2 linked regions of the Homo sapiens genome follow. The protein of the gene in region 1 interacts with the protein of each later gene in a biochemical or structural test. Each region holds a gene or a part of one and is shown in the gene's direction. Other genes may lie near its edges.

Region 1 (5,694 bases):
TCTCCTGCCTCAGCCTCCCGAGCAGCTGGGATCACAGGCGCCCACCACCACCCCCTGCTAATTTTTGTATTTTTAGTAGAGACAGGGTTTCACTGTGTTGGCCAGGCTGGTCTTGAACTCCTGACCTCATGAACCACCCACCTCAGCTTCCCAAGGTGCTGAGATTACAAGCGTGAGCCACTGCGCCAGGCCAGAGTCTGTTTTTGAAGGCATCCAGGCCAGTGGAACTCTAGTGCAAGGAAAAGTTCTGGCTTGAGCTGGTGTTCCAGAGCTGTTGACACGCAGACCAAAGGAGTTAGCACAGAGGGAGAGACCTCCCCAGGATCGCGCCCTGGGCTCCTAAGGCTCACAGGTCACAGAGGAAGGACCCATGAGGGAGGAGGACCTCCAGGAGGGGCATAGTGGCTCACGCCTGTAATCCCAGCACTTTGGGAAACCAAGGTGGGCAGATCACTTGAAGTCAGGAGTTCGAGACCAGCCTGGTCAACATGGCGAAACCCCGTCTCTACTAAAAATACAAAAAAAAAAAAAAAAAAAATTAGCTGGGTGCGGTGGCACACCTGGAATCCCAGCTACTCCAGTGGCTGAGGTAGGAGAATCACTTGAGCCCCTGAGGCAAAGCTTGCAGTGAGCCAAGATTGCGCCACTGCACTCCAGCCTGGGTAACAGAGTGCGACTGTAACTCAAAAAATAAATAAATAACTAAAGAAATAAATGAGTCGACAGCAGCATCAGACTTGCCCTTGGGATTGGCACGGAGAGGTCAGTGGCAACCTTGAGTTTAGGTGGCGGTGGGAGCTGATTCTGCCGGGTCAGAGGGAGAGAGAGGAGGGTGTTGCAGGCAGAGTTTGCTGCTAAAGGAAGCAGTAACGTAAGGCAGCTGGAGGGGAGGTGGGGTCAACAGTGTTTGGCTTTTAGGAGAAAGTGCAGCATGTCTGGGTGCTGATGTTAGTGATGAAGTAGAGAATGAATGACACAGAGGGGAGGTCTGTGGCCAACAGGTGAGAGGGGTTGTGATCGGACGCACAGTGTGATGGACTTGGAACACAGTGAGTAGCGCCTCTGGCAACACCTGCTCTGCCCACCTGTGCCCAGCAAGGCTGAAGAATGAGCTCCAGGGGGGCTGGGCCACGCAGCACCATCTGTGCACCCGGCTCGTGTAGCAGGGACCTGGGTTGCTTATTATCTGAAGTACAGGGTGGTAACAGTCTCCGCCACTACACAGGTCAAGCGCTTGGCGCTGTAAATGTCAGTGCAGACATCTCAGTGCTCTAGACAGAAACCTAGGAGTCATCTGAACTTCCAGCCTGCTAGGAACATGAGGAGAGGGACCTTGTTGCACCCAAGGCTGGGGTCTGTGGAGGGGACTCAGCGGGACACAGGGCAGCCAGGCACCACCCCCACCCGACTCCTAGTCTCTGATGCCGCTCCCTGCCCTCCATTCCAGACTAGGCGCCGCAAGTACGCTGGGGAGACCCAGGAGTAGGGAGGGCATTGGGAGCACCACCACCTGGCCACGGGCAAGGAGCGGAGACACCGAAACCAACACTCCCAGCGGCGCTGGCCACGGTGGCTCTGTCCCCTCCCTCAACAGGTGCTCCTGGGGCCAACGCCTTTCTTCCCACCAGATCCTCCCCGCCAGAGGCTAGAAGCTGTGATAGCAGCTAGAGCACAGTGGGGGGCCATGAGAAAGACCCCAGTTATCCATCTGGTCTTCTTGGGACCAGGGCCAGGGAGCCGGTCCCCTCTCCCGTGGGTTGGGGGAAGATGCTGCAGCCCGTGGACCTCCTACCCCTTTACTCCCTCACCCAAGTGCCCTTCCCAGAGGAGCGGACTCCTCCTGTCTGTCCTCCCGGCTCTAGCAAAGTCTGCGCCCAGCACCCGAGCCCCACCCTGCCCCCGGGGACCTGGCTGGTGGGTTCCTGAGGATGGTCTCCATCTCGGGACCGGGGCAGGCAGGTGAGGGTGGGGGATGGGAGGTGGGCGCGGCGGAGGGAGAGGAGGGACCCGGCCCCGCGCGCATGGACCCAGTGGGGGGCGCGGGCGCGGCCCCGCCCCGTCCCGCGCGTCCCCGCCGCGGCCGGCGCGCGCTCCCGGGAGGCGGCAGCGGCTGCAGCGTTGGTAGCATCAGCATCAGCATCAGCGGCAGCGGCAGCGGCCTCGGGCGGGGCCGGCCGGACGGACAGGCGGACAGAAGGCGCCAGGGGCGCGCGTCCCGCCCGGGCCGGCCATGGAGGGCGCCTCCTTCGGCGCGGGCCGCGCAGGGGCCGCCCTGGACCCCGTGAGCTTTGCGCGGCGGCCCCAGACCCTGCTCCGGGTCGCGTCCTGGGTGAGTGGTCCCTGCCCGGGCCCCCGCTCCCGCCCCTGCCTCGCGACCTTCAGGCCCCTACCAGCCCCCTGCCCCCTACCCCCTGCCCCCTGCTTCTCGCCCCCCGACCTCACTCACTCTCATCCTCGCCGGCCCCTCCCCCGCCGGCCTCAGGTTGGGGTGACGTCACCGGGCAGGGCGCGCCCACCTGCGGGCGGAGGAGGGGCCGGCGGCGCCGGAGAGGGACCTTGAGAGGTCACCGCCGGTCGCCTCTACCCCTACCTCCTCCCCGGGTCTAATTTCAGTCCCTTTCCGCAGCCCTTACTCCGTTTTTCCTGTTCTCGTGACCTGGAAGCAGGGACGGGGTGGGGACGGAATTCTCCGAGGGGCAGGAGGGGGCTACGGGAACCGAGAAGCGCCTCCCCTTCCCCCGCACACACACCCTCGGGTCTCCTTGGCAGGGAGCCTGTCCCCTGGCCCCCAGTTCCAGCTGTGAGTTGAGGGAGGAGAGGCTCTGGGCTGGGAGGGCTTCCTGGCGGCGGTGTGGAAGGCAGGTTTGGGAGCAGCCTAGCCCACTGGGGCGTCCCTGGGAGGGCCCTGCTGCTCCTTCCCTCCGGCAGGGGAGGTGGCAGTTGGGTGCCGAGCTCTGGGTTTTGTCCAGGTGGCAACCTCTGGGCCAGCCGCACCTCGGCGCCTGTCTTGGAGGAGGGCGGTGCCCACGGTGGGGCAGGGGCTTTGGCCTCCCCTGCGGAGTGGCTCTGACCAGACCGGGAGGCAGGACGCTGCGTTTTGGTCCGAGCGCACGTCCCGACTTGTGGCCCACTCTTGGGGACAAGTGCATGTCCCGGCTTCCCCCTTGGCTCCACTCTCGGAGCTGGAGCGGGAAAGGAGCGAAGGGATGAGGTTGAGGCTGGAGGTCGTTTCTTGGAAACACAGGGCTGCCCCGTGCAGCGCTGGTTAAAATGACTGCGGTCCCCCTCATGCCTGTCTCCCGGAACTGGTGGGCAGGAGGCATTGAGGTTTGACGGAACCTCAGAGGTCAACGGTGTCATCTTTTCAGCCCAAACACTTACAGGTGATATTAATAATCAGTCACGTGGGGGCTGTCATCCCTCGGGTACCCACCACGTGCAGGAAGCTGGGTGGACATGTCTGTCCCAGCACTGCATGAGCTGTGCCCGTCACCCTATTTGCATGCTAGAAAACAGGCCAGACAGTTCCCAACCGCGCAGGAAGCAACAGCTCCGCTGCCTCCATACCCTCCCTCCCGCCCCGCTCTGCCTGCTGCACTCTCACCTCCCCTTCGCCGTTCCGGCTCCAGCCTGGGAATCGCGGGCCCAGGTGAAGGCTCCTGTTCCCACACTCTTGAGTGGGCTCTGAGGGGACTCCACGGGCCCACGCGGTGCAGAGTACCTGGCTTGAATCAACCCCGGCTTTTGTCAGCCATGTGATCCCGGACAAGTCACTTCACCTGTTGGGGTCCCAATGTCCCCCGCATTTATAAAGAGAATAAGAACAATGGCGATCCCACGGGGACTTTCTGAGGATTTGGTGAGGGGACGCATGTAAAGTGGCTGTTTAACACAATGTCTGGGCATAGTAGATGCTCACTAAACGGCCCGTGTTGTCAATAATTACTAAATACGCGAGGGTTCGGGAAAGAAAGAGGTGACACCGCCCCCCACCCAGATACGGGCCTGGGAACGCAGGGACAGGCCCAGGGGCGTGGGCGCTCGAGGCGGGCTCGCAGAGGTCGGGTCGCCGCAGGGCCCTGAGCGCCGCGCCGCACGCAGGTGTTCTCCATCGCCGTCTTCGGGCCCATCGTCAACGAGGGCTACGTGAACACCGACAGCGGCCCCGAGCTGCGCTGCGTGTTCAACGGGAACGCGGGCGCCTGCCGCTTCGGCGTCGCGCTGGGCCTCGGAGCCTTCCTCGCCTGCGCCGCCTTCCTGCTGCTCGATGTGCGCTTCCAGCAAATCAGCAGCGTCCGCGACCGCCGGCGCGCGGTGTTGCTGGACCTGGGCTTCTCAGGTGGGCGGGGCCGGGGCGGTGAGCGCGGAGAGCCTTCCGGGTGGGCGGGGAGGGGGCGGGGCCTGGGCGGGGAACACCGCTGGAGTTTCCAGCTGGGCGTGGCCGTGACGAGGGGCGGGGACTGAGGCAGGGAGTGTCAATGGGCCTCCCGGGTGGGCGGGGAGGGGGCGGAGCCTGGACGGGGAGCGCCGCGGGACTTTCTAGGTAGGCGGGGCCCGGGTCTGGGCGGAGCCTGGGCGCGGAACGGGTCTGGCGCTCCCGGGTGGGCGGGGTCAGCGCAGGAGAGGGAGGCGGGACCTCGCGCCACGCGGCGAGCCCAGGCGAGGCGCCCCAAGCCTCGGGCCCACCGACCTTTCCTCCTCCGGGCGAGGCCGCCGTGGGCCACCGCGTGGAGCGTCGCCCTGACGCGCCGCACTGTTCGCAGGACTCTGGTCCTTCCTGTGGTTCGTGGGCTTCTGCTTCCTCACCAATCAGTGGCAGCGCACGGCGCCAGGGCCGGCCACGACGCAGGCGGGGGACGCGGCGCGGGCCGCCATCGCCTTCAGCTTCTTCTCCATCCTCAGCTGGGTGAGTGCGGGGCCCGGGAGGGCGGGGCGAAGGGGCGGGCGCTCGGCTGATCCCGGCTGACCCCGCTGACCCCGCCCCGCGCAGGTGGCGCTCACCGTGAAGGCCCTGCAGCGGTTCCGCCTGGGCACCGACATGTCACTCTTCGCCACCGAACAGCTGAGCACCGGGGCGAGCCAGGCCTACCCCGGCTATCCGGTGGGCAGCGGCGTGGAGGGCACCGAGACCTACCAGAGCCCGCCCTTCACCGAGACCCTGGACACCAGCCCCAAAGGGTACCAGGTGCCCGCCTACTAGCGGCTGGCAGGCACAGACCAGGGCTCCAAGGCCACCCCACCAACGCAGGCCCCAGGGTCTCCGGGACCTCCCTTGGGTCCTTCCAGCTCAGTGCCGCGGACAGAGTAGGTGGCCGCTTTGCGCCATCCGGGGCCAAGAGGGGGTGGACCCGCGTGTCTGGGCTGCCCCTGCCAAGTTCCCCCAGTCCCTCAGCACCTGGCCCCAGGACTGAGGTCCTGAGAAGGGGATAGCACTGCCCAGGACGTGTGTCCCTAGCCTGGAATGGACTGGCCTGGGGAAGGCTTTCCCCTCTTGGGCCACACCTGCTCACTCTGGGGTTGGGGGTCCAGCTGCCCTCTACGATCAGGTGCAGGGGCTGCCCAGGACAAAGCGGGGGCAGGGGAAAGACACCACCCTCGCCCCAAGACTGGGGATCCTGGCCACTGTTCCCATCCCATGTCCCTGTGGGTAGTGACTGTCTCGTTTCTGTCATGGTGGTGCGTCCCGTCCGGAGC
Region 2 (3,680 bases), on another chromosome or scaffold:
CGCGGCCATGGGTGGGTGGGGGGACACGTGGCCGTGGCTGGGCTGGGCGGACACACGGCACAGTTGGGTTTTGGGTCCACGTGTGGCTGTGTTTGGGGAAGGGCCTCAGGAGGGAAGCACTCACAGCAGTGTTTCTGGCAGGAAGGCACACACAAGATGATTTTTTTGTTGATAAAAATACTTTGGGAGGCTGAGACGGGCAGATCACCTGAGGTCAGGGGTTCAAGAACAGCCTGGCCAACATGATGAAACCCCATCTCTACTAAAAATACGAAATTAGCCAGGCACGGTGGCACGTGCCTATAATCCCAGCTACGTGGGAGGCTGAGGCAGGAGAATTGCTTGAACCCAGGAGGCGGAGGTTGCAGTGAGCCAAGATCATGCCACTGCACTCCAGCCTGGGCAAAAAGAGCAAAACTCCATCTCAAAAAAAAAAAAAAAACTTTGGTTGTTATATGGGCCAAAACCAGTTTTGACCAAGATACGACTCCTCCCTTGGAAAAGTGCGTGTAGTATGGCACCAGCCACGGGAGCCTCCCGCAGGGACACAGCCCAGAGCAGCCCTTCATCGTGCCACAGTGCCGTTCACCAGTGTGAATCCACTCACGTCCCACGCATCAGAAAACCCCCATCAGCCACTCCCAGCTACTCTGGCGGACCGAATGCAGAAAAGGAATGTGCTTTCCCTGCCAAGTTGTTCTTCCCTTTCCATCCCTGGGGAGGGTGTGCAGGACAGAAAGTGTCTGACCTTCTCACTCCAAGGAGCATTTGCTGAGCTGGCGTCCCAGGAAATGTTTGGGAATTGGGCCTCCCAATCAGAGGACAAGCCGTCAGGGCAACCCGGTGCCCTTGTGCCAGTGTCTGCTCCCACCAAGGGCCCTGCCTGTGCAGCCTGGTGACACTGTCCTCTCCTGCAGGTGGTATGGATCACAGCCACCATGCCATACGTGGTCCTCACTGCCCTGCTCCTGCGTGGGGTCACCCTCCCTGGAGCCATAGACGGCATCAGAGCATACCTGAGCGTTGACTTCTACCGGCTCTGCGAGGCGTCTGTGAGTACAGTCTGCTCACTGCTTCACAGTCCACAGGGGCTCTGGCATTCCCAGGTTTCCATATGCATTGCCTGCCAGGGCTGAGAGGTGTCAGAGTTGCAGACACCAGGGTTCTTTCCTCGGGAAGCCAAATCCCAAGTACCTGTGATACAGCACGAGTCATCTAAATCAAATTACATCAGAAACTCCATCTAGACTCAGGCTGCAGCTTTGGTCAGCAAAAGAAGACATAATTCAGGGTTAAAATATTTGGAGAAAGCCTCCCGGAGAGAGGAGACTCAGCTGGGCCATGGGGGATGGGACCCTTGTCCAGAAAGGGAGGAGAAAGGGCTGCACCCTTCCTGGCAAACAGGCCCAGAAACAGAAGCAGCTGTTGGCGGAAGGCTGGCATGACAAAAATGGCAGCTCCCTTGGGGCATCGTTGGAAATCAGGTGGACTAAGTGGGGGAGGTGGCAGGCCCCAAAGCCGCCCAGGGGCATCCATGTTGCTGTGGGAGGACAATGCAGCAAGAGGGGAAGGGCCATCTCAGCTGGGGTATGAGGCAGGAGGCCGTTGAGAGGTGCTGCCCTGTGTGGGTGGGCCGGTGGAGCCAGGTCTGGGGGTCATGAGGCAAGTGTAAACCCAAGGCAGAAGTGGGAAGGAAGGGGAGAAGGGATGGGCGGGCATGGCTGCAAGCCTCCCAGGAAGCCCCAGGGAGGCAGCAGCTGACAGGTGCAGTGAGAGAGGGCACCTGGACATGGCACCTATGAGGCTGCAAAGCAGTTGGGTGGGGGTGGGGGTGGAAGTGTGCCTGCAGCACTGAAGGGGAAGCCCTGTGGAGACAGGAGCCATGGGTGCAGCAGGCGTGTGGCCCACGGGAGCCAAGGAAGAGAGAGGAGGACAACCAGGGCAGCAAAATCAGCTGTGGCCGGGGGCCCACAAGTGCAGAGCTGGAGCCAGACAAACCATGAAGTCAGCAGGGCGTCTGGACCCCAGAAAGGCCAAAATGAAGCCAAGGGGTGTGTTTGCAGGACCATGGCATGTTACAGAATCAAAGAAAAATACCACAAGGACAACGTAGAGCCTAGTGCTCCAGCTAGGAAGAATAGGCAGCCCCAGGAGGAGGCAAAACAAACACCAGTGCATGTGAAAAGATGCTCACTGGAGAACAAATTACAAAGATGAGATGTCAGAAATTAGGTGGAGACAGTGAATAGATTGGATGGATGGATGGATGGATGGATGGATGGATGGATGGATGGATGAATGCTAGGTAAGTAGGTGGATAGGATGGATGGATGATAGGTGGGTAGATAGAATGGATAGATAGGATGGGTGGATGGAAGGCTGGCTGGCTGGATGTATGGATAATGGATGGGTGGATGGAGGAATGGATGATAGGTAGGTAGCTGGATAGTATGGATGGATGGATGATGGATGGATGGATGGATGGATGAATGGATGATGCATGGGTGAATGGGTGGATGAATGATAGGTAGCTAGATAGGATGGACAGATGGATAATGGATGGATGATGGATGGGATGGATGGGTGGATGGATGATGGGTGGATTGCTGGATGATGGATGGCTGGGTGGATGGATGAATGATAGGTAGGTAGCTGGATAGCATGGATGGATGGATGGATGGATGATGAATGGATGATGGATGGGTGAATGGGTGGATGAATGATAGGTAGGTAGCTAGATAGGATGGATGGATGGATGGATAATGGATGGATGACGGGTGGGTGGATGGATGATGGGTGGATTGCTGGATGATGGATGTTTGGGTGGATGGATGAATGATAGGTAGGTAGCTGGACAGCATGGATGGATGGATGGATGATGGATGGGTGGGTGGATGGATGGATGGATGGATGATGGGTGGATTGGTGGATGATGGACAGATGGGTGGATGGATGAATGATAGGTAGCTGGATAGCATGGATGGATGGATCGATGATGGATGGGTGGATGGATGGATGATGGATGGGTGGATGGATGGATGATAGGTAGGTAGATAGGATGGATATACAATAGGATGGATGGAGATAGATACATACACACACATGTACTTCATATATTCATAGATGATAGACAGTTGATAGATTATAGAGATGACAGATAGATGATAGATTGGTGATGGATTGATAGATGACAGTGATAGATGATAGATAGATAGATGATTGATTGATAGATAATAGATGATGGATTGATGTATAGTGAAGAGAAATCAGGAAAGAAATGGAAGGAAAGGACAATTGCAGGTCCTGGAGTGAAAGTGCATGAGGTGAGGCCCAGGGAGGCAGCCATGGGCACTGGCTCTGGTGTGGCACTGGGCAGAGGCCTGAGCTGCACACACAGATCAGGGTGAGGAGGAGGCAGGCGCTCCCCTGTGACACCTGATCCAGCCTGCAGCTACCTGGCCAGGCAGGTGGCTGATGACCAGCATGGGAGCCACATCAGGGTATGAGCCTCTCCACCCACTGCCCACCCAGCCACTCTCGGCTTGGCTCCTCCCCTCATGCTGAAACACTGGCCACCTGCAGAGTCCTGACTGCGGGGCCTGGCCATCTGCCTCCAAACACACTGTCCCAGGAACTGGGGTTGCCTTGAGGCTCTGACATGCTGCCCAAAGGACAGAGGG

The links. Proteins that work in one complex are often made in the same cells at the same time.
Region 2: the proteins of SYNGR3 (region 1) and SLC6A3 form a complex in vitro, tested with the Homo sapiens proteins (one study listed by BioGRID).

The regions. Positions count from the first base shown.
Region 1 is NC_000016.10:1,987,873-1,993,566, forward strand, and holds the start of SYNGR3 (synaptogyrin-3), read left to right. Parts: upstream 1-2,097; 5' UTR 2,098-2,230; coding exon 2,231-2,329; intron 2,330-4,101; coding exon 4,102-4,339; intron 4,340-4,763; coding exon 4,764-4,906; intron 4,907-4,990; coding exon 4,991-5,200; 3' UTR 5,201-5,694. UniProt on the Homo sapiens protein: May play a role in regulated exocytosis. May indirectly regulate the activity of the plasma membrane dopamine transporter SLC6A3 and thereby regulate dopamine transport back from the synaptic cleft into the presynaptic terminal.
Region 2 is NC_000005.10:1,417,941-1,421,620, reverse strand, and holds part of SLC6A3 (sodium-dependent dopamine transporter), read left to right. Parts: intron 1-917; coding exon 918-1,052; intron 1,053-3,680. UniProt on the Homo sapiens protein: Mediates sodium- and chloride-dependent transport of dopamine. Also mediates sodium- and chloride-dependent transport of norepinephrine (also known as noradrenaline). Regulator of light-dependent retinal hyaloid vessel regression, downstream of OPN5 signaling.